7 linked regions of the Homo sapiens genome follow. The protein of the gene in region 1 purifies or fractionates together with the protein of each later gene. This does not show direct contact. Each region holds a gene or a part of one and is shown on either strand. Other genes may lie near its edges. The genes, in order: PBXIP1, MYO1D, LEMD2, EXOG, ATP13A2, PNKD and PACC1.

The links.
Region 2: the proteins of PBXIP1 (region 1) and MYO1D purify together in Homo sapiens (co-immunoprecipitation; 2 studies listed by BioGRID and IntAct, with this or other methods). This does not show direct contact.
Region 3: the proteins of PBXIP1 (region 1) and LEMD2 purify together in Homo sapiens (co-immunoprecipitation; 2 studies listed by BioGRID and IntAct, with this or other methods). This does not show direct contact.
Region 4: the proteins of PBXIP1 (region 1) and EXOG purify together in Homo sapiens (co-immunoprecipitation; 2 studies listed by BioGRID and IntAct, with this or other methods). This does not show direct contact.
Region 5: the proteins of PBXIP1 (region 1) and ATP13A2 purify together in Homo sapiens (co-immunoprecipitation; 2 studies listed by BioGRID and IntAct, with this or other methods). This does not show direct contact.
Region 6: the proteins of PBXIP1 (region 1) and PNKD purify together in Homo sapiens (affinity purification with mass spectrometry; 3 studies listed by BioGRID and IntAct, with this or other methods). This does not show direct contact.
Region 7: the proteins of PBXIP1 (region 1) and PACC1 purify together in Homo sapiens (co-immunoprecipitation; 3 studies listed by BioGRID and IntAct, with this or other methods). This does not show direct contact.

Annotation. Positions count from the first base shown.
Region 1 is NC_000001.11:154,943,580-154,946,099, forward strand, and holds the end of PBXIP1 (pre-B-cell leukemia transcription factor-interacting protein 1), read right to left. Parts: coding exon 1,993-2,520; intron 1,539-1,992; coding exon 1,445-1,538; 3' UTR 501-1,444; downstream 1-500. UniProt on the Homo sapiens protein: Regulator of pre-B-cell leukemia transcription factors (BPXs) function. Inhibits the binding of PBX1-HOX complex to DNA and blocks the transcriptional activity of E2A-PBX1.
Region 2 is NC_000017.11:32,765,625-32,769,124, reverse strand, and holds part of MYO1D (unconventional myosin-Id), read left to right. Parts: intron 1-1,372; coding exon 1,373-1,489; intron 1,490-3,500. UniProt on the Homo sapiens protein: Unconventional myosin that functions as actin-based motor protein with ATPase activity. Plays a role in endosomal protein trafficking, and especially in the transfer of cargo proteins from early to recycling endosomes.
Region 3 is NC_000006.12:33,775,631-33,779,130, reverse strand, and holds part of LEMD2 (LEM domain-containing protein 2), read left to right. Parts: intron 1-743; coding exon 744-889; intron 890-1,891; coding exon 1,892-1,993; intron 1,994-2,074; coding exon 2,075-2,177; intron 2,178-3,500. UniProt on the Homo sapiens protein: Nuclear lamina-associated inner nuclear membrane protein that is involved in nuclear structure organization, maintenance of nuclear envelope (NE) integrity and NE reformation after mitosis.
Region 4 is NC_000003.12:38,506,340-38,509,839, reverse strand, and holds part of EXOG (nuclease EXOG, mitochondrial isoform 1 precursor), read right to left. Parts: intron 2,987-3,500; coding exon 2,872-2,986; intron 1-2,871. UniProt on the Homo sapiens protein: Endo/exonuclease with nicking activity towards supercoiled DNA, a preference for single-stranded DNA and 5'-3' exonuclease activity.
Region 5 is NC_000001.11:16,998,429-17,001,928, forward strand, and holds part of ATP13A2 (polyamine-transporting ATPase 13A2), read right to left. Parts: intron 2,107-3,500; coding exon 1,972-2,106; intron 1,885-1,971; coding exon 1,818-1,884; intron 1,715-1,817; coding exon 1,583-1,714; intron 1-1,582. UniProt on the Homo sapiens protein: ATPase which acts as a lysosomal polyamine exporter with high affinity for spermine. Also stimulates cellular uptake of polyamines and protects against polyamine toxicity.
Region 6 is NC_000002.12:218,273,519-218,277,018, reverse strand, and holds part of PNKD (probable thioesterase PNKD isoform 1 precursor), read right to left. Parts: intron 2,823-3,500; exon of another isoform or gene 1,545-2,822; coding exon of another isoform or gene 1,398-1,544; intron 994-1,397; coding exon of another isoform or gene 940-993; intron 16-939; coding exon of another isoform or gene 1-15. Other genes in the region: TMBIM1 (protein lifeguard 3), read left to right, coding at 1-15, 940-993, 1,398-1,544. UniProt on the Homo sapiens protein: Probable thioesterase that may play a role in cellular detoxification processes; it likely acts on a yet-unknown alpha-hydroxythioester substrate.
Region 7 is NC_000001.11:212,387,387-212,390,886, forward strand, and holds part of PACC1 (proton-activated chloride channel), read right to left. Parts: intron 1-3,500. UniProt on the Homo sapiens protein: Chloride channel gated by pH that facilitates the entry of chloride ions into cells upon exposure to extracellular acidic pH. Involved in acidosis-induced cell death by mediating chloride influx and subsequent cell swelling.

The sequences.
Region 1 (2,520 bases):
TGAATTCAATGAACTAATACCTTTAAGCCCTTAAACAGAGTTACATATTCGCTTGCTAAATAATACAGAAATCAGTTACAGCCCCTTCTAGAACCTGTAGTCCCCCGCCTCCTGCCTGAGCAGTCACACCACATTATTCTGTCTCCTGTACTTCCTGGGCATTTCCAGGGTCATCAAAAAGCCCAGTGTATTGCCGAAGGGACTAAGGTTAGATCTCAGGAAGGACTTCCTAGAGAATAGCCAAGGGGAGTCTGGTCATCCTGGGAGAGCTGGCCAGTGGAGCAGGCGCTGGGGTCAGTGGGGTAGGGTCTGAGATTTTGGGGACAGTGAGTAGTGGGAGAGGCGAGGTCTGGAGCAAAATGGAGCCAGGGTGCCACCTAGTGGTTCCCTCACCTCCCCAGCCCCAGAAGCTCTTCCTTCTGGGCCTGGGTTCTTTTCCCTCCTCCACACCCTTCCCTAAAGAAGGCAATAACTTTTGAGTGCCCAAAACAGGAGAGGCATTTTTCTTGCGTTGCTTTTATTTAATCACTTCCCCAGCCCTTCCATCGCCTTTTTTGAGGATAAGAAACCCAAAGTTCCCAGAGATTAACTTGCCCAAGATCACTTGGCCTGGATTTGAGCCTGAGGCTCAGACTCCAAAACCCACACTCAATTTGCTACATCTCCCAGGGGTGGGGCCAAGGCAGCTGTGAGCAAAAGGAGAAGTATCAGCTTCTCAAGGGCCTAGGGTTTGTTGGAAGGGCAAGGCAAGGGCAAAGGGGGATACAGAACAAGGGGGCAAGTACCAGTGCCTGGGATGGACCCATCCATTCAGGCAGGGGGTGTGGGGTGTCCCCTGTGCTTAGAAACCACCTAGCATCATAGCTGCAACAGCACTTTATTGGGATCTGAGTCTACAGTTCACATAGGGAGGTGAAGCCGTGGGAGAAGCAGGGGTAAAAAAAAAAAGGGGGGGGACTTCACCCCCTAGGGACAGCTGCTTCCAAACCTAACAAAACCCCAGGGTAAGTCCTCGTGCTGGGCCTCGAGCCAGCAACTCTAGTCAAATCCCAAGGCACCGGTCAGCATGTGGGTCAAGGGGCCCACTATGGGGACATACACTCAAGAGGATGAAAGCTCTTTAGCTTCAGAATCAGATTGCCTTCCCCAGACCCCACCCCAAAACAGGCTCCTCTCCCATCTCCCCCTTCACAGTGACAAAACACAAGCCCACATCCCAGGGCCTGGAGTATTTGCATGCATTTGCATAGACGGCAACGCAGGTCCAGCTAAGGCCTTTTTCTACATAAAGTGACATCAGTGCAGGGCTGGTGATTTTGCTCTACTGTGTGAAAGATATCTGAGGACACCAAACAAGCCAGGACAGAGTCCACCCTCCAGGAGTTAGATAACGCTGGGATCTTGGGCTGGGCCAGGCCAAGGCCATTCCCTGTGGGGCAGGGTGTCAGCCCCGGTGGTGGTGGTGGTGGCTATGGCTGTGCCCCTCCCTGGGCCCCGCAGCTCTTGGGCTCTGTGAGTGCTTGTCCTTCTTCCCTGACCTGTGGGGAGGAAGAGGCCTTTAGGGGACAATACCATGCAATGAAAACGGGTTCCCCAAGGAGAGAGGACCCTGCTCCTCCCAATGAAGCTGACTTGAGCAGGCACCACCAAGCATATGTGGGAAAAACCTGGTCTCCCAGGATAAAGGCTCCAGTCGGGGAGACAGGAAGATGGGGATCTCCCTCGTCCCCTGGGCCATGCAGGTAGAGGTAGGGCAGGGCAACTCAGGAGAAAGAATCCCCCTGCCCAAAAGGGGACTGCTCAGGACCACTCTGGGGTGGGCACAGGCAGCTTCCTACCCTCAAGGGAAGAAAGGAAGCGGACCTGAATGCCTTCTCTAAGGGAAGCCAGCTGGGGACCAAAAGTAAGGATACTCAAACTAATGATCCTTGCTCTTCACATCCTCCCGACTGCCTCTGTCCCACCCGACCCAACTCCCCCACAGCTGCCCACCTCTTCTTCAGTGCTTTGTCTCCAAAGAAGTGGCTGAAGATGAAGTCCTCAAAGTCATCTACTTCATCATCATCACCTGTCTGTTGCACAGCCACCTCCTCCAAGCTGTCCTCCAGGGCATCCACAAAATCCCGGAAGCGGAGGCGGTCATGACGGAAGATGCCATCCTCACCAAAGAAAGCAGGTGAGAGGGGTAGCTCCTTGGTCAGCTGCCCAGCCCAGGGCAGCCGTGCCAAGTATGTTCTTAGCAGAGAGGCCAGCTCCTGTTGCCGCACTGGGGCTAGCTCTGTGCCAAAGAAAGTCAGGCCCTCCTGCCGGGCACACTCGTCCACACCTGAGCAGCCCTGGGGTGCCCGGTACTTGGGCCTCAACAGCTCTGCCCAGGATGGCAGGGGGTCATGGCTGTCCTTAGTCCCTTCCCTCCACCGAGGTTGCTTCTGCTTTTCTCCAGAGGAGTGGAAGCTACCACTTTTCCTTGGGGGTTCCTTCGGGCCCTGTCGCTTGCCCTCCTTCTTGCTCCCCGACTCC
Region 2 (3,500 bases), on another chromosome or scaffold:
GAATGGCATCCCATGCCTGTGGCTAACCAGTCATTTAGTAAGGGAAATAAGATCACTCTGATGAGTTTAGACCAGTGAAGATTTACCTCTTGAGGCTAGGTAGATGCCAGTCACAAAGGACATGCACACTTAGAGAGGAGTAAACAAATCAGGGTTCGATTGGCAAGAAAGAAATGAGGGTAGAGGATGGCTGTTAGGTAAGCAGCCAACAGTTCCCCACAGTAGGACATTTAGATTTTATCCAGTTACTTTCCAACTTCAACATGGTTGCAGTTTATAATAATAGTAATATCTGATACTGCTGAGTGGTTTTTTTTTGTATGCTGGTGCTAGAGAGGTGCTTTATATAAATTTTCATTCAATTCTGACAACCACCCTGTAAGATATATGTTATTATGCCCATTTTATTTGTGAGGAAGTTGAGGTTCAATGAGGTTAAGTATCTTGTCCAAGGTAAAAACAAAAACCTAGGAGGAGGAGGGGCTGGCCTGGTTGTCTCCTGGACACTAGAGGAACTTGTACTCACCAGGCAGAGAGGTCCCCTTCCAGGGCCCTTCCTCAACAAGTGAGCATCAGGCCAGGTCTCTGTATCCAAACAAGAGGAGAAACTTACTGAGGAAAGAATTGGTCAAGCCTCTGCGGCTGCTGCTGTGGTAAAACTAATATAAGCAGTTACTATTGCTTTATTGCGAATTTCTGTTTACGCACTTGTATTTCCAATGTGATGGCCACAGCTCTAAAAGGGCAGGCGATTCATCTTTGAGCTGCCTGTACCAGTTAGTAGAGCTGACTTGTGAAATGCGTATCAAGTGAGTGAAAGAATGAAGTTATAGTCCCAGACTATTTAATAGCTTACTAAATGACTGAGGCTGGCTGTTTTGCTTTTGAGGGCCCGCCTTGCCTCACCTGGAAAATAAACCGCCTGATTATACGAGAGTGAAGTGTTGTTGCCAGCCTAAATAAGACAATTGTGGAACAAAGAGCCACAAACAACAGTAGCCAAGCATGTATCTTGGAGGCTCCCACATTCAGCACTTGCATTTGTGATCTCACATCCATGCTGTTGCCTTCACTGATCATGGAGTGGGGGATCAGCTTGTCTGAGCCAGCTCAGGACTTGCTCCCTCACTGAAGGTTCCAGAAAACGGCACAGTGCTTATTTTAGGTGATGGCTTTCACGCACAAGTGGGCTTTGTACGTGCTGAATAATGTTGCAACTCGTGAAATCATTTTTATTTTCTCTGGAGACTCACCATCCCCTCAAGTGATTTACTATGAAGGCAAAACCTTGGTATAACTTAGTTTTATAATTGTTGAATTTTAATGCTCATAGGAAATATCTGTAACTTCAGTTTTTCATTTTCATCCCCAGTCTTCTATCAATGATGCTGCCGAATTCAGAGTTGTTGCTGATGCCATGAAAGTCATTGGCTTCAAACCTGAGGAGATCCAAACAGTGTATAAGATTTTGGCTGCTATTCTGCACTTGGTGAGTAGGGACACCTCTCAGAATGTATTGTCTTCTGCTGAGAACAGGATGCTTTCTCAGAAGATTTTGTTTTTTCCCTGTAGATTTAAAAAGTATTCAGAGAAAATTTTGTACGTATTTTGAAGAAATTACTATGTCTGTGGTTCTTGCCATCATTTTATAATATTATGAGGGATTTTCCAAGCTACTATAGGGTTGGAGACTACTACTTCAGTTGATTGTCTTACTGGTATTGTCAAACTTTGAACTGGTTAATTTTAAGGATAAAGGAATTCAGCAGTGATGTGACTACTAGTGGTATAAATTTCTAGTGGCATTTGAAACATAGAATCATAGGTTATCGGAACTGGATTTTTAATCATCTCATTTTACAGATTGGGAAATAGCCCTGATGGGTGGCATGACTACCTCAAAGGCACAGCCAGCTCATCCCAGAGCCAACACCATAGACCACTTTTGGGCCACTTGTTTCCCACTATACCACACCAAACTTAGAAGTGAAGAACTGTGTGTTAGATTTCTTTCATTAACATTTATATAATTAGAGATACTTAAAATACACTGAACATATAATCTTACAATAAGAATGACAACATGGATTCAAATCTGGAATAAAAATTACTTTTCACTTAATATAGCAAGATTTAACTCTAAATGAATCAGAAATGTGCAGGATCTTTATGAAAAATATTATATAGCAATATAAACAATAAATGTTCCTGACTAGGAAGACTTTAGTATTATAAATTGTCTCATCTGTTTGAATCAGTTTTTAAATACAGTGCAGCAGTCCTTTTCAGAATCCAAACAAGAATTTTATTTTTTGTTGTTTTGTTTTCTTTTTGAGATGGAATCTCGCTCTGTCACCCAGGCTGGAGTGCAGTGGTGCAATCTAGGCTCACTGCAAGCTCCACCTCCCGAGTTCATACCATTCTCCTGCCTCAGCCTCCTGAGTAGCTGGGACTACAGGCGCCTGCCACCACGCCTGGCTAATTTTTTTTATTTTTAGTAGAGACGGGGTTTCACCATAGCCAGGACAGTCTCGATCTCCTGACCTCGTGATCTGCCCATCTCAGCCTCCCAAAGTTCTGGGATTACAGGCGTGAGCCACTGTGCCTGGCCTTTATTTTGTTTTTAACTTGACCTGTTGATTCTAGAATTTACCTGGAAAAAGATCAAATAAAGTATATTAAAGAAGTGTCGTATAGGGTAGGGTAAGGGAGGAGAGGGAACATGACTAGTTCTACCAAACTTAAAATGATAGTAAAAGCTAGAGTACTTTATAACTTTGCACAAGTTCAGCACCAGATCAACAGATTAATCAACTGATTGGTTAATGTGCTGGACATTTGGTAGATGGTTATAAGTATGTATTGCTTATTGAATGAGTGGAATATAAATAGACTCAAACACTTGAGGAGATTTAACATATTAAAAAGGTGACATTTCAGCTGGGCGGGGTTGCTCACACCTGTAATCCCAGCACTTTGGAAAGTTTGAGGTGGACAGATTGCTTGAACCCAGGAGTTCCAAGACCAGCCTGGGCAACATGGCAAAACCCCATCTATACAAAAAATACAAAAATTAGCCAGGCATGGTGGCACGCATCTGTAGTCCCAGCTATTTAGAGGGGCTGGGGGTGGAAGGATCGCTTAAGCCTGGGACGTTGAGGCTGCAGTGAGCCATGGTGCACCACTGCATTCCAGCCTGGGTGACAGACCCTGTCTCAAAAAAAAGGTGACATTTCAAATCAGAAAAAGCTAGACTGTTCAATAAGTCCCGTTAGAGCAACTAATCATGTGAAAAATAAAGTTAGATTCTTACTTGATACCATGTACCAAAATCAATTGTGGATGGATTAAAAAGTTTAAGGAAAAAGGCCAGGCGCGGTGGCTCACGCCTGTAATCCCAGCACTTTGGGAGGCCGAGGTGGGTGGATCATGAGGTCAGGAGGTCGAGACCATCCTAGCTAACATGGTGAAACCCTGTCTCTACTAAAAATACAAAAAAT
Region 3 (3,500 bases), on another chromosome or scaffold:
GGGAAGGCAGCCTGGAGGGTGGCAGAGCCGCTCAGGATGACCATATTGAAAGTGGGTCCTGAGAAATCAGGACACTTGGGATGCCAGCCATTCCAGCATGCAGCCTCAAGAGCATGATATTCTCGCCCTGGGTCACCTAGCTGGAAGAAGGCTCTGGTGTCCCCACCTCTGCAGGTCCTGACACCTCCTGGCCAGAGACCATGGTGGAGGCGCCGTGGCTGGGGTCTGGCCTCGGAGAGCCTGGTGGTTTTCATTCCCCATGAGCCTCACGGATTCCCCATGAGCCTCATGGATGCCCCATGATCTTTACACTTAAACAGCTTATGTGCCTCCTTGTCACCGAGGAAAAGTGCAACCTCCCAGATTCTGTCTTTCAGTTCTTGCCATGCAATTGCAAAGCTAGTGATTCAGTAAACATTTCCATTTCTCTATGCTGGGAGGTGGGAATCCAATTTACAGTTTAATCTCCTGCATGCTGAGAGAGGCTGTCAAAGACCTGACAGGGGGACGTTGCTTTAGCGGTAGGGGTTCAAGCCTGCTGCCGTCTTTAAAGCTTTATTCATTCTAAGTAGCCAATGTGGGAAATTTCTGGAAAGAATGCAGCCAGGATACCAAGCCTATTCTATAAGCAAGTAGAGGCCTTGCGTCCCCACTTTCCTTCGCTTCCTCCTGTTTGAAGTGGGGCTTGCACTGCCTCTCCTTGGAGCTTTCCAACATGTTCAGAGCCCTGTGTCCTGTTTCAGGTTGAAAGGAGAAGACCAGTCTGAATTGGTGACGACTGTGGACAAGGTGGTCTGCCTGGAATCTGCCCACCCCCGCATGGGTGTTGGCTGCCGCCTGAGCCGGGCCTTGCTCACTGCTGTCACCAACGTGCTCATCTTCTTCTGGTGTAAGTCCTCGGCCGCCTTCCCTCCCCTTCTGTGCAGTCAAGCATACTCCTAGGCATGAATGATGAGCTATAGAAATTCCAGGCCCGGAGGGTTCATTTCTGTCTAGTGAACCTGAGGTCTGTCTCATAAAACAGAGGAGATGAACAAGTCAGCCTCTGCCCTGGGTTGTATTTACCTTTGGAGATTGGTGGCAGGAATCCGTGAGGATAACTAGAAAATGTCCTTGATTCAGGGCAGGGGACTGTCAGATTTCCTGAGCGGGAGCCTGGCCTGAGCAGGAGCTGGGCCCCACCCCTTCTGGGCTCTGCAGGGATCCCAGTGTGGACCAGCTTCGAGCAGGAGGCACAGCAGGGGCTTGGCCTACTTTTACTCCCTGAAAAATATAAACATCTCCTGGAGAGCTACAGATACCTGATGAAAGCAAGAAGGACTCAGGGTGCTGCACTGAAAGGAGGGCACCAGTCTTATCCCCTGACATCGGGGGCCGCCTTTGAGCAGAGACCTCAGGGCGTCTCTGAAGGCGAAAGGCCAAGTCACAGAAACCACGGCTTTCCAGAGATAGTTGGAGCTACAAATCACAGACCGCCTCAGTGTGCACACAGCTCCCTCCCCTGTGCCATCAGGCACAGAAATCATTATCGGCAGCAGCATCTCGGAATACAAAGGGCCCCGGCATGTATATATGTATGAAACACTGTGTTCTGGTTCACAAGGGAGGAGATGAAAGCCCCAGAATGAGGTTGGGAGGAGCCGAGATCTGGACGGCTGGGGATGCCGCTGTGGTGACAGCCGGTGGGAGGAAGATGATCACTTAATAATCTGTCGTCCCTCTGCATTTCTGTATCTTTTGTTTCTCGCATGCTGGCCCTGAGCCTGACACATAGTAGGTACCCAAACCCATGTGGTGGATCCCCCACAGCATCCATCACAGCATCTTGTCCATGGTGAGACCCACTGCCAAATGAAGTGTGAGGGATTAACAGTGTTTTGTTCCCTCACAGGCTTGGCTTTTTTGTGGGGGCTCCTAATTCTCCTAAAATATCGGTGGCGAAAGTTAGAAGAGGAGGAACAAGCCATGTATGAGATGGTGAAGAAGATTATAGGTGCGTGGCCCCCTGGTGAATAAAGGGTTGCCGACGCCAGCCAGAGGGTCCTTGCCCTAAATGGTGTGCTCTCTCCTGCAGACGTGGTCCAGGACCATTACGTGGACTGGGAGCAGGACATGGAGCGCTATCCATATGTAGGCATCCTGCACGTGCGCGACAGCTTGATCCCTCCACAGAGCCGGTGAGTCCCTGGCTGGGGCGCTGGGTGTGAGGTAAGATGGGGTCCGACCCCACTGAGCTCCCCAGAAGGAAACCCAGAGCCTTGCATCAGATGTCAGCTGAGGGCAGTGCAGACCCCAGGGCCAAGAGTGGCTCTGCTCCCACTCCTGCTGCTCCCCAGCATGCTCGGCTCTTTATGGCAGGATGAGCTAGAAAAGACATATGAAAGCACAATCCCACACCTCTGTAGAGAGAACACTGGCAGTGGTGATACCAGTTAGGAGGCCTTGGGCTCCAAGTAATAGCAGCTCCCTCCCCCAGGGCACAAGTAGTGAAGGATCTCCTCAGTCTCTGTAAGTGGAAGTTCAGAGCTGCATGGGCTCCAGGCACAGAACAGTCAGGTCTCCGGTTCCATTGCTCTTGTGATTCTCGTGGTCCCACACTCCTCCATGGATGTTATCAACAGACTGGGGTCCCTCATGGTTGCAGATGGTGGCCAACAGCAGCTGGGGCACTGTCTGCCTTGTCACAGCCAGCAGGGGAAAAGTAGGCCTATTGTTGTCTTATAAGCAAGAGAACATGTTCCCAGTAGCCTCCAGTGACACACTCCTTGAGGCTTTATTGACCAGAATCTCTTACATGTCTGTTTATGAATCAGTCACTGGCAAGGAGGAGGAAATTGTTTTTCAAACTTTTTAAACCATGACCTGCAGTCAAAAACACCTGTTACCTGCAACATCATGGTCCAGTTCCCACACACGCATGCGTACACTCATGCATATACATGTAATTGAAAGCAAAGTTTCACAACATGAATGGGGTCAGCTTCCAGGGCACATAGCTTCATGGGAAGGGGTGGCAGGGCCACTGTCATGTGCAGCTGCAGGGCACCTTCCACATGGGCTGTGACTGCTGGAGTTGTACACTGGGGTCCTGACAGAACCAGGGTGGGGGAGGGCAGAGTCCCAGGAGACAGCCAGCAGGGCCCCCCCCAGTGTTGGCTCTGGTTGTGGTCCCTCCCTAGCAGACACTTGCTGTGGTTTCTGGCCAGATGCTGTCATCTGCTGGGTGATGCTGAGAGCTCACCCTTGCTGAGTGCTCCCTGGGAGCCGGGCACTACTTGGAGCTCTCCACAGATGCAAACTCACTCACTTGGTCCTCACCATGGTTCACGCACACAACAGAAGTGGCCCCATTTTACCTATAAGGGAACTGAGGCACAGGGAAGTAGAGGAATGTGCTCAAGAGTCCCATGGCTAGTGGCATTTCCGTGCTCCCGCCACCAGGCTCTACTGTCAACATCATCCCTATCTGCAACCCAAGAGGAATCAGAAAAATAGAGCCG
Region 4 (3,500 bases), on another chromosome or scaffold:
AGAAGCTTTTCTTTACACCCTATGTATTTACATATTTATTGAGTATGTATTCTTATTTAATTCAATAGGTTTATAATCCATTTTATTTTGATATTCAATAGCACCAGATACAGTAAGTGGGAGCTCCTTCAAGCTGATTCACATGTCCTTCTGACATATCCCCACCATTTGTCTGAGCACTTCCTTGGCTTTCTGATATATGATGTTCCATTTTGTACTCTCCCTGTACCACCCCTTAAATCAGTCATTTCTCTAAGCGCTGAGTCTTTTCAGGAGATGCTTTTTAGAAACAAATATCTGGGTCTCAAGATGTGTTCATTGCTAATGACATACCAATTCTTCTGGGCCTTTTCAGCAGAAACAACTAGAAGATATATTTTTATCAGTTCTATTTTTAAAAATTATATCCAACTTAAGAAAAACAATACATTTTCCACTACGGCATTTGGGCAACACATATTTTACAGAAATAGCCACACAAAAATCTATGTAGTGAAATGCTTGTAATTATTGGTTAATTTTTCGTTTTAAACATTGTACAAATTTTTGTTCTACTACACAGTAGGCTAGTGATATAAATTTTTCAATTTTATAAAAACAAAGCACAAATAAAACTGTAATTTAACCATTTAAGATATACAAGTCAAAGCTAGAAGAGCCTCTTTTCTGACATAAAATAAACAGGATTTAACAAAGACCAAGAATAATTAATATTTGAAAAATAATACAGGGGGCTTTAAGCCTTTTTTTCTCCTAAGACTATAAAATATACTAAAATTAAATTAGCAAGTTAATCAGAGGAGAGAAATTAATATGGGAGGAGAGATATTAAATGAATTAATTTTAAAATACTAATTCCTTTGACTTCCTTCACTCCCATATCTACTGGAATTTTCCAAGGATGTACAAATCCTTGAAAACAACTACTCTATCATTTCCACTTAACAAAAAGAAGTAGTTGGGTCATAATTTTGTGTGGAAAAAGAGAAAGTGGGCTATTCATATGGACCTATACAAATCCTTGGATGCTTGGACATTACTGCACATCTGATCTAGACAGGCTGATAATAAGCAAGTCAAATGGACAGAATATACTCTAAAAGTTTTGGTTTTTTTTTGGGGGGGGGGTGGTTCCTCAATCTGTTCCTCAGGTTATTAAATTTTATCACAGACTTAAGTAATCATTTACCTAACCAGCATTTATTAAATATCTACTTTATTTCCAGAGCTGAGCTAGGTGTTCCCTCCCCTCCTCTTTGGCCTTATTAGCAAGTCCTTCAGTGCTTCTTTTTACTCACTCTACCACCTCTTCTGCTTCACTCCACCTGTTCCCTGCCCTCTGTAAGCCTCACAGTATAGTATAACATTTCAGCCACCCTCTTGGAAGAATCCTCAGGATATTTCTGCATGATAAGATTAAATGTTAAACTTTTTCTAAGAACACCTGCTCTTCAGGTATACCACTTTGTAAATTGCCAATATGAAAGGCTAGCTAAGAATTTCCCAGCAACATTAGATGTCTGAAGCTCTCACACCACTAATTACACTCTCCTATCTTTAATCTCTCTTTCAGTCTATAAAAGTGCTCACATATCTTGCATATTAAAAAAAAGAAGCTTCTAGAAGAAAAGCTTTTCTTCCCATTTATTCAACTCACTGTAACACTGTAATCTGGTTGTTTTTATTTTATTTTTATTTTTATTTTTTTCGAGGTGGAGTCTTGCTCTGTCGCCCAGGCTGGAGTGCAGTGGTGCGATCTCGGCTCAGTGCAACCTCCGCCTCCTGGGTTCAAGCGATTCTTCTGCCTCAGACTCCCAAGTAGCTGGGACTACAGGCACACGCCACCACACCCAGATAATTTTTGTATTTTTAGCAGAGACGGGGTTTCACCATATTGGCCAGGCTGGTCTCGAACTCCTGACCTCGTGATCGCCTGCCTCGGCCTCCCAAAGTGCTGGGATTACAGGCATGAGCCACTGAGCCTGGTCTGCAATCTAGTTGTTATCCTGGAACTTCTCCCTCTTCCTCACTCAAACAAGTTATTTATTCATGGTTACTCTTTCCTGTGTTCCTCTATTATTCCTCACTCCAACTGCTTGTATGTCCTAACTCATCTCCTTGCCTCTAATCTCTTCTTCAAATGCTCCCTTTTCCCACCTATCTCTTTACACGCTGCTGCCAAAATACTCTTTATAAAACCCAAATATCATATTTCTCCCACGCTTAAAACAAATCTATGACTTCTTAGTGCCTAAAAATTAAAACCCAAGTCTTCATCATAGAATAGAAAGTCGCATATTATCTCACCCGTCCACCTGTTGTTATGGAACTCTTCATACCCCTTGAGCCACCCACACTGTTTTGTACCATAAGCTCCAATTTTTATGAATGATATATAAATCTCAAAACCCTGATGTTGACCACAAATGTCCTGTGCTCATCCTGCTCCATCCTCTGGAATCCTCAGGGTCCACTCCTGACTCTTATCTGTCAAGGTATAGCTCAATATCACTTCCTCTTTTAAGCGTTCCTGACTCATATGAGTAGAGCCCATCAGTCCTTTCACAAGACCACACTGTGTGTGTTTACCTCTATTACAGCATGTCACACTTTAATGTAATTAATTGTTAACATCTGTTTTCCACTCTAAACCGTGAGTTCCTTGAAGTCAATAGTTGCTTTTATCCATCACTATATTCCCTATGCCTATCATTCCTAATAGGTGTTCAATAAATATTGTTGAATAAGTGAAATTAAAAAGTAGAATGCAAAATTTTTTTTGAATGATAAAAATAAAAATAAAAAGCAGAATGGAAAGTGAGATTATAATCTCATACAGATAACATAAACCTGACTATTAAACATCCTTACCTGGTAACTAACTATTTTCTTTCCATCGCCTCTAGTCTGAGGTAAGGTCAAAGGCCCAGATACCACCCAAACATCTTCAAACCTTTCTGTCAGCTCTCGACAGTACATTTCTATTCTGAAAAACAAATAAAAAAATGTATGATATTCTCACATATATACATGTAAGACAGCAGCAAATCATATCAATTCCTATGAAAGATACCAAGAAAAACTGCATTTGAGAAATTAAACAAGAACATGGCACAAAACATTATAAGCATATAAACAATTATTTTCCCAGTTTGCTTACTGCACAGAAAAAACTTAAAAATCACATACACTAACAAAACTATCTACATTTTTCTTTATGTGCGCTCAGAGTACATTCTGGAATTCAAATTTCATGAACTTAAAACTTTTTTTATGCCATAGTTCCCAACCAGCTTTCAAGAATTATGTATCATTCCAACAAGATGATATACTTTATTTAACCATTCCTCTTGCAGGACAATTGGGCTTATGTTAACATTTCTTATATAATGCAACGTTGTATCAATTCCTTAGGATAAATTTCAAGGACCAGAATTACTGAATGAATTTATTTTAAAGACTCGTCATCATATGTAAAACTAACATTTTTAATAGGGTTA
Region 5 (3,500 bases), about 140 Mb from region 1:
CTCCTCACCTCAGGCAATCCACCCACCTCTGCCTGCCAAAGTGTTGGGATTACAGGTGCGAGCCACTGCGCCTGGCCTACGATTTGTGATACAAATACAATGCCAGCCAGAAAACTTCCCTGGAAAAAAACCACTATCCTGTGGTTTTTAGTAAACTCTCTCCAGTATCTACCACCAAAATATAACACATCTCAGAGAAAGAAATACTTGCACACATCAAGAGACACAGGACAAAGCTGCTCCTGTGGCGTCCTTTGCAATGGCTGGAAAATCACATTCTAAATACTCATGGCGAGCGGGCCGGTTGAGTCAGTTACGATACATCCGTATTGTGGACTCTCATGCAGCCATGAGGTGGGGCCATCCGTGCTTGTGGAAGGATGCCAGGAGAAAAAGCAAAGTATGGAACAATACACAGCATACAATCCCACGTTCAGAACAAAAGGAGAGGCAAATCAGCCCATGTGCACACACGTAATGCAGAAAAAGGCGTGGAAGACACCTCACACCCTTCACAGTGGCTGCCCTGGGGAGGGGAAGGGAAGGGGACTGTGGGGTAGTGAATGGGGACCGCAGTCTCTCACTCTGGGAGAGGGCTTCCCACTCTCCTGTGCCATCTGGAATCTTTATGACCTGAAGGTGGGCACTGGTATAGAAACAGCTCAGATGCAGCCAGGTGCTATGGTTCATGCTTGTAATCCCAGCACTTTGGGAGGCTGGGGCGGGCAGATCACTTGAGGTCAGGAGTTCAAGACCAGTCTGACCAACGTGGTGAAACCCCATCTCAACTAAAAATACAAAATTAGCCGGGTATGGTGGCGCACACCTGTAATCCCAGGTACTTGGGTGGCTAAGGCAGGAGAATCGCTTGAACCCAGGAGGTGGAGGTTGCAGTGAGCTGAGATCGCACCATGGTACTCCAGCCGGGGCAACAAGAGTGAAACTCCATCTCAAAAAAAAAAAAAAAAAAAAAAAAAGGAGAAATAGCCCAGATGCACTGGGTGGCTGGCCATTTATGCTGCACCTCTCACGCTCCTAAGCACTTTGCACAACTCTGTCCAGGAGGAGTGACTGACAGCCATCTTACAGAAGAAGGAACTGAGGCACGGAGATGATACGTGGTAACGGCCCAGGGGTGTGAGGTTAGCAAGTCCTAAAGCTGGGATTGTTGCTTGAGAGAAAAAGGAAGAGGAGGCGGAGCGCTGGCACACGCCTGAAATCCCAGCACCTTGGGAGGCCGAGGTGGGCAGATAACCTGAGGTCAGGAGTTCAAGACCAGCCTGGGCAACATAGTGAAACTCCATCTCTACTAAAAATAAAAAATTAGCTGGGCGTGATGGTATGCACCTGTGGTCCCAGCTACTCAGGAGGCTGAGGCACAAGAATCACTTGAACCTGGGGGGTGGAGGCTGCAGTGAGCTGAGATCATGTCACTGCACTCCAGCCTGGACAACAGAGTGAAACTCCGTCTCACAAAAAAACAAAAAAGGAAAAGGAAACTCAAATGAAAACTTTTGCCGCAGGGCAAAGGGTTGGATGGCAGGGGAGGAAGGAAGCTGCAGGCCAGGGGCTGGGGGCTCACCTGTCAGAGAGCTCTCATTCACCATGCACTCGCCGGCCACCAGGGCGGCATCACAGGGCATCAGCCCACCCTCCTGGGGCAGCACCAGGCAGTCTCCGGGCACTAGCTCACTGGAGTCCACCCACTCTTCCTCTGCAGGCAGGCAGGAGAGGAGCTCAGCTAGGTGGGGCCAGCCCCAGCCATGCCCCCCCACCCTCCCACTCCTGCCCCCGCCCCCTGGGCCCTAGCTCCTCACCTCCCCCTGGCCGGCACACGCACACCCGCATGGACAACTTGACCATGTCCCTTAGAGTCTGGCTTTGCTGTGGGCAGGGGACAAGAGGGCCGTGAGTGGGTGGGGGCCCCTGGGGACCCACCTGTCCCGTCCCCACCCACCTTATGGCACTCACCTTTCTGGTCTTGTACAGCGACAGGCAGATGGAGATGGAGGAAATGAGGAAGATGCACAGGGCGTACCAGTAGTAGTGGTCAGCCAGCCACAGCGCGATGCTGAAGGCCTGGAACCCATAGTAGGGGTTCAGTGCCTGGGGGAGGGGCGGGAGGCAGCGTCAGGGCCGCGTCCCCCAGGGCAGCCCAGCCACAGGCTGGGTCTCCTGTGCCCATGGGAGCAGAGGGCCCAGTGGCTGCCAAAGGACTGGAGCCAGGCCTTTCTCCTGGTCAATCCCATCCCCACCCAACCAGACATCCCCAGGGCCCTCAGTTTCTCCGCTCTAAAGAGGACAAGGGTTTATGACCAGCCTGGGCAACATGGCGAAACCCCATATCTACAAAAAATACAAAAATTAGCCTGATGGGGTGGCCTGTGCCTACGCTCCCAGCTACTCAGGAGGCTGAGGTGGGAGGATCACTTAAGCTGGGGAGGTGGAGGGTGCAGTGAGCTGAGATCGCGCCACTGCACTCCAGCCTGAGTGACAGAGGGAGACCCTGTCTCAAAAAAAATAAACAAATAAATAAATAGGATAAGGGTATTTACTGAACCCCCACTACACGCCAAGTGCTTTATCTAAGTGTCATACAATGGCAATGACAATTCTACAAGGCCGGTACCACCATTAGCTCCATTCTACAGATGAGGAAACCAAGGCATGGACAGGTGAAGCCACTGGCCTAAAACCACATAGTTCCAGCCAGGTGCGGTGGCTCATGCCTATAATCCCAGCACTTTGCAAGGCCGAGGCAGGTGGGTCATCTGAGGTCAGGAGTTTGAGACCAGCCTAGCCAACATAGTGAATCCCCGTATCTACTAAAAATACAAAAAAAAAAAAAAATTAGCTGGGCGTGGTGGCAGGCGCCTGTAGTCCCAGCTATGTAGGAGGCTCAGGCAGGAGAATCACTTGAACCCAGGAGGTGGACATCGCAGTGAGCCGAGATCACGCCATTGCACTCCAGCCTGGGCAACAAGAGCAAAACTCTGTCTCAAAAAAAAAAACAACAAACAAAAAACAAAAAACCACATAGCTTCTAAGTGACAGACTGATTTCTATGGGGCCAGACTCAAAGATCTCTTTCATGGTGCCTGCCCCCGATCAGAGGGCTGGGATGTTCACACTTTATTCTAGTTGTGTCCAGGTCACTGGCTTCTCTTTGTCCCTGTGTGACCTTGGCCATGTCACAGCCTCCAACTGAAGCTTGGATTTCTCAGGTGTGAACAGTGCAGTCCCAGGCCCAACCCACGGGACTGTTGGGAGCATGAAAGTGGAGGACGCACAGAGAGGACCCAGGCTCTAGGGCGTGTCTCTGGGGACCCCATAGATGCTCAGGCTGCGTGGATTTGCCTCTTGGCCTCCAATCCCTATGAGTGGGGCCCCAATCTGTGACCCAAGCCTTGGGCAGAACCTCCAATTCCTGGACCTGGTCTCTCTGGCTAGGCTGACTGCGGCAGGTTCTGAGATGACGATCCACTATGGAGAAGGGGACA
Region 6 (3,500 bases), on another chromosome or scaffold:
CTCTACTTCCAATACGTGAGTGTCCCAGGAGAGCTGGGGTCAGGGAACCCAGTGCTCAGGGCAGACTTCCTATATAGCATGGTCTCGCAGGCCCCAAAGGTCCCCGGGGCAGGCTCTGACCTCCAGAACCTCTCGACTGGCTAGCAAAGGCACCAACGTGGAGGCAGCATCCTTCTGGGTGAGGGTAGACTCTCTGTGTGGAGATGGGCGGCCTTGGAGCCAGAGCACCTGAAGCCCTGGACTGCATCACTGCACTCCTAGGGGAAGGGGTGGGTTCAATCTGGCTGGCAGCTGAGAATCAGGTTCTCGGAGGCAGACTGGGAGAGGAACCCAGAGGACTGAGATGATGGGCCTAGGTGGAAGGGACCTTGCGGGGGTCTCTGGATCCAATTATTTCCTTTATTCTGTTCAGCTGGGGGAGAACAGTGCCGAAGGGGAAGGATGGGGACACGAGGGCTGCCTGCCCATGGGCCAGCTCTGTCCTTCTGTGGACGGCCACCTGTGGGCATGTCATGTGGGCTGTCCTGTGGGTGCTCCCGGATTTTGATACTCACCAGAGGGGTTGGGGGGCCTCCCTTCTTCCTTAGTCTACCCCTCCCAGGCTGGGCTGTAGGAACTGGTCTATTGAATGCTGGGTCTGCCCCTTTCAGAGCTGTAACTCAACTGCTTTTTTTCTAGAAGTATAGTAGACACTTGTGTACCTTGACTGGCTTTGGAGATTGGTTTTATACAGCCATTGCAGGATGGCCTCTGCTTTCTCTGCTGGATATATCACCAGTCTTAATTTCCTCCAAGATCTGGAAAGGCAGTAGCCTTTCATGGAGAGCTAGCTTCCCAGCTCTACCCACTCTCATGCCACTATCCCGGGGGAAGCTGGGGCCTGTGGGCCTGTGGTTTGCTGAGGTTTCTAATGCCATTCTCTGTCCCCTTCTTCTCCAGGTTTACTGGCTCCACATGCTCTATGCTGCTCTGGGGGCCATTTGTTTCACCCTGGTAAGTCCCAGCCCCACTCTAGGAAGGGGAGCTGAGGGGATGAGGGGAGGAATCTAGGGAAGGGGGCATGAATTTAGACTGCCTGGGAGGCAGGGAATGGGGCCATAGCAGGCCATTCCTCTCACTACTGTCCAGAGATTCCATTGATTTTTGTGGGCACTCTTGCCATCTCTTGTTCAAGCTGCCTGCTATTAGAACACTAGTCAGCCATATTGAGAACGGTGTGTCTGCCTCCTTTCCTAGACTGTGAGCAGCTACAGTATAGAGCCCATATGTTATGCTGTGCGTTAATGTGGCCCTAAGCACTGTGTGGCGCATAGGCCCCCAAGACAAATCTGCTGACCAAAAATGAGCTCTGGACACTGATGCCTGAGTTCTCACTTCTGGCTTCCCTATCCTTGCAGTTCCTGGCTTACGACACACAGCTGGTCCTGGGGAACCGGAAGCACACCATCAGCCCCGAGGACTACATCACTGGCGCCCTGCAGATTTACACAGACATCATCTACATCTTCACCTTTGTGCTGCAGCTGATGGGGGATCGCAATTAAGGAGCAAGCCCCCATTTTCACCCGATCCTGGGCTCTCCCTTCCAAGCTAGAGGGCTGGGCCCTATGACTGTGGTCTGGGCTTTAGGCCCCTTTCCTTCCCCTTGAGTAACATGCCCAGTTTCCTTTCTGTCCTGGAGACAGGTGGCCTCTCTGGCTATGGATGTGTGGGTACTTGGTGGGGACGGAGGAGCTAGGGACTAACTGTTGCTCTTGGTGGGCTTGGCAGGGACTAGGCTGAAGATGTGTCTTCTCCCCGCCACCTACTGTATGACACCACATTCTTCCTAACAGCTGGGGTTGTGAGGAATATGAAAAGAGCCTATTCGATAGCTAGAAGGGAATATGAAAGGTAGAAGTGACTTCAAGGTCACGAGGTTCCCCTCCCACCTCTGTCACAGGCTTCTTGACTACGTAGTTGGAGCTATTTCTTCCCCCAGCAAAGCCAGAGAGCTTTGTCCCCGGCCTCCTGGACACATAGGCCATTATCCTGTATTCCTTTGGCTTGGCATCTTTTAGCTCAGGAAGGTAGAAGAGATCTGTGCCCATGGGTCTCCTTGCTTCAATCCCTTCTTGTTTCAGTGACATATGTATTGTTTATCTGGGTTAGGGATGGGGGACAGATAACAGAACGAGCAAAGTAACCTATACAGGCCAGCATGGAACAGCATCTCCCCTGGGCTTGCTCCTGGCTTGTGACGCTATAAGACAGAGCAGGCCACATGTGGCCATCTGCTCCCCATTCTTGAAAGCTGCTGGGGCCTCCTTGCAGGCTTCTGGATCTCTGGTCAGAGTGAACTCTTGCTTCCTGTATTCAGGCAGCTCAGAGCAGAAAGTAAGGGGCAGAGTCATACGTGTGGCCAGGAAGTAGCCAGGGTGAAGAGAGACTCGGTGCGGGCAGGGAGAATGCCTGGGGGTCCCTCACCTGGCTAGGGAGATACCGAAGCCTACTGTGGTACTGAAGACTTCTGGGTTCTTTCCTTCTGCTAACCCAGGGAGGGTCCTAAGAGGAAGGTGACTTCTCTCTGTTTGTCTTAAGTTGCACTGGGGGATTTCTGACTTGAGGCCCATCTCTCCAGCCAGCCACTGCCTTCTTTGTAATATTAAGTGCCTTGAGCTGGAATGGGGAAGGGGGACAAGGGTCAGTCTGTCGGGTGGGGGCAGAAATCAAATCAGCCCAAGGATATAGTTAGGATTAATTACTTAATAGAGAAATCCTAACTATATCACACAAAGGGATACAACTATAAATGTAATAAAGTTTATGTCTAGAAGTTAAAACCCTGTATGGCTCCAGGAGTATGTGTGGCTCTGCCCAAAGTATCCACTTCTTCCTTCTGCATTCTGGCTTGGGCTGTCCCACCTTTTCCAAGGTAATCAAATACACTTTACTGCAGCAGTTTCCGGGGACGGATGCAATAGACTAGTGAAGGCTCAGGAGTTGGGTGGGGAAAGGGAGAGCTCAACCCTATCACACTGGATCACTGGATATGGAAGAGACCTCTTGGCTGTAGTGCTTGACCTTTTCTGCACCATGGACCCTTTCCAAAAGCTCATGAGAGCTAACTCTCTTCCTCAAAGAGCTGTATGTATACCTACAGTTTTGCAGATGGAGGAGGGGATGGACTGCAGGTTCAGTCCATGTCAACTCCAGTCCCATCTTACAAAATGAGGAAACTGGGCCTGGTGCGGTGGCTCACACCTGTAACTCCAGCACTTTGGGAGGCCGAGGGCGGTGGGGGGGAATCACCTGAGGTCAGGAGTTTGAGACCAGCCAGACCAAACATGGTGAAACCCCATCTCTACTAAAAGTACAAAAAAAAAAAAAAATTAACTGGGAGTGGCGGTGAGTGCCTGTAATCCCAGCTACTCTGGAGGCTGAAGCAGGAGAATCACTTGAACCCAGAAGGTGGAGGTTGCAGTGAGCTGAGATCATGCCATTGTACTCCAGCCTGGGCA
Region 7 (3,500 bases), about 57 Mb from region 1:
TAAAAGAAAAAGCAAAAAACAAACAAAAAGAACAGAAAAAAGGAGTTTACTCTCTAGAGGGATAGGCAGTTACAATCCAACAAGTGAGCTGGCCCCAACCTACCTCTCTGGCCTTATCCCTCACTGCTCCACTTCCCCAGTTCTCCCAGCTCTAGCTCCACCTCTACTCATCGACTTTCTGTTCTTCTGGAGTGCCCTTCTCAACCCGGGATTCCCTCACACTTACCATTCCCTCTGCTTGATTTTCTTTTCTTCCACAGCTGATGCTTCACTCATCCTAAGCCCCGAAAGCTTTTTGCTTGGCATCTGGCTTCCAACAGTGACAGAGTAGCTTGGTCACGCCATCCTTCCATGGAAGCATTTTAATTTAGAAAGACATTTTCTTGGCCAGGCGCAGTGGCTCAAGCCTGTAATCCCAGCACTTTGGGAGGCCGAGGCAGGAGGATCACCTGAGGTCGGGAGTTCGAGACCAGCCTGACCAACATGGTGAAACCCCTGTCTCTACTAAAAATACAAAATTAGCTGGGCGTGGTGGCGCATGCCTGTAATCCCAGCTACTCAAGAGGCTGAGGCAGGAGAATTGCTTGAACCCAGGAGGCGGAGGTTGCAGTGAGCCGAGATTACTCCATTGCACTCCAGCCTGGGCAACAAGAGCGAAACTCCATCTCAAAAAAAAAAAAAAAAGAAAAAAGAAAGAAAGACATTTTCTTGAGGAAGCCTCTCCTGACCCCTAACCTTTATTTGGGCACCTCTTCCTCAGTGTTCCCAGGGAGCCCTGTACGTCCCCTACTTCATCACTCTGCAATGTCATGTCTATACATCTTTTATCCTCCTAGGCTGTGAGTTCCATGAGGGCAGGGATGGGGCCAGTCTTATCCCTAACTGAATCCTTAGCCCTTCATGCTATGCCTGGAACATTCTGCATTTACATGGTGACTGATTGAACACGTCCTGATGCTATTGGTACAACACAACTCTGTCTCCCCTACCTCCCTCACAAAATCCTGAGGCTAGAAGCTAGATTAATCTCTGTTATGGACGAAACTGTATCCCCCACCCTCAAATTCAGGTTGAAGCCCTAACCCTCAATGTGAGTATATTTAGAGACAGGGACTTCAAGGATATAATTAAGGTTAAATGTGGCCATAAGGATGAGGCCTGATCCAATAGGACCAGAATCCTTATAAGAGGAGGAGACACTAGGAGCACATGCACACAGGAAAAAAGGCCATGTGAGGACACAATGAGAAGGCAGCCATCTGCAAGCCAAGGAGAAAGGCCTCACCAGAATTCAATCCTGCTGGCACCTTGATATTGGATTCTCGCTTCCAGAACTGTGAGAAATAAATTTCTGTTGTTTATGCCACTCAACTGTGGCATTTTGTTACAGCAGTCTGAGCTGACTAAGATACTCCCACAGGGCTCCCTGTGCCCTCTCTGCTCCTCAGCTGAAAATGGAGCTCCCTGAGAAGAAGTCCTATTTCCTCCACAGCCCAGCTGAGCACAAGGCTGAGAACAAGGGAAGCATCTGAACGTAAGCCCCAAAAGGTATCTGCTTGGCATCTGGCTTCCAACAGTGACAGAGTAGCAGTGTCACATCACCCTTCCACAGAAAACAATTATAAACTTTGGACAACATATTTTAAATTATTTGAAGGCACTGGGAGAATGATCAAAAGCAGGTAGAAATTGAAAGAGAGGCTACCCTTGAAAGAGAAGAACTGTACTTGGTGAGATTTATACATCTGTAGCTTTTTGCCTAAGAATACATGCCAATCCCTATAAGGCATGGTTCAGAGTGACAGGGACAAAGTTCAGGGCTGGAAGAGCAGCCAGAAAGTTAAGACAAAACCATGAAAGGGAGGGAGCCACACAGGGGGTGAAACTCCCAAATCTGCAACTAAATATATGTTCAGATCCTTGGCTGGAGAACCCAGGGGGGGCCAGCAAAAAGTAACAACTGGAAATTGAAAGAACTGCATGGAGATTTCAACTACGGCTAATGCAGGGGAGATAGGAGTTTAGAGCTTAAATCTTGCCATATTAACAATATGCCAAGAAAAAAAAATACCCTTCTGAAGATCATAACAGAATCCAGAATCTCTATATCATTCATAATGTCCAGTGTTCAATCAAAAATCACTAGACATGCTAAGAAACAAGAAAATGTGACCTGTACTCAAGAAAAAAGCAATCTATAGAAACCAACACCAAGATGACCCAGTGTTGCAATTTAGCAGAGAGAAAATTTACAGCACTTAAAGGAAAATATCTGAATAAGGAATAAAGACAAGATCAATAGAGAAACAGAAACTAATAACAATGGCCAAATATATAGAATTTCAGTTTTGCAGGATGAAAAAGCATTGTGGAGATGGATGGTGGTGATGGTTGCACAGCAATATGAAAGTGCTTAATATCACTGAACTCTACATTTTAATGAGTAAGATGATGAGTTTTACATTACGTGTATCTAACCACTGTAAAAATGTTTCATAAAATTTAAAAAAACAGATGGAAATTCCAGATCTGACAAGAAATAAATGAAATAAAAAGTTCACTGTATAGGCTTAATAGCAAAAGATGGCAGAGAAAGAGTTTGTGAACTCAAAGTTAAATCAACAGAAACTATCCAATTTGAAGAAAATATTGAAGGAAAAAAAAAACCAAATGGAGCCCGGAAAATTGTTACAGTATCTAGCAGTGTAGTGACATGTAACTGGAGACAGAAAATGGGTCACAAAAAATATCTGAGGCCGGGGGTGTGGTGGTTCACCCCTGTAATCCCAGCACTTTGGGAGGCTGAGGCAGGCGGATCACAAGGTCAAGAGATCGAAACCATCCTGGCCAATGTGGTGAAACCCCGTCTCTACTAAAAATACAAAAATGAGCTGGGCGTGGTGGTGCATGCCTATAATCCCAGCTACTCAGGAGGCTGAGGCAGGAGAATCGCTTGAACCCGGGAGGCGGAGGTTGCAGTGAGTTGAGATCACGCCATTGCACTCCAGCCTAGGAAACAAGAGCAAAACTCCATCTCAAAAAGAAAAAAAAAAAAAAAAAAGACTATTGATATTGGGTTCTAAGATGGCTGAATAGGAACAGCTCCAGTCTACAGCTCCCAGCGAGAGAGATGCAGAAGATGGGTGATTTCTGCATTTCCAACTGAGGTACTGGGTTCGTATCACTGGGGCTTGTCATACAGTGGGTGCAGGACAGTGGGTGCAGCGCACCGAGTGTGAGCTGAAGCAGGGTGAGGCATCGCCTCACCCGGGAAGCAGAAAGGGTCAGGGAATTCCCTTTCATAGCCAAGCAAAGCTGTGACAGATGGCACCTGGAAAATCGGGCCACTCCCACCCTAATACCGTGCTTTTCCAATGGTCTTAGCAAATGGCACACCAGGAGATTATATCCCGCGCCTGGCTCAGAGGGTCCCACACCCACGGAGCCTCGCTCATTGCTAGCACAGCAGTCTGAGATCCAACTGCAAGGCGGCAGTGAGG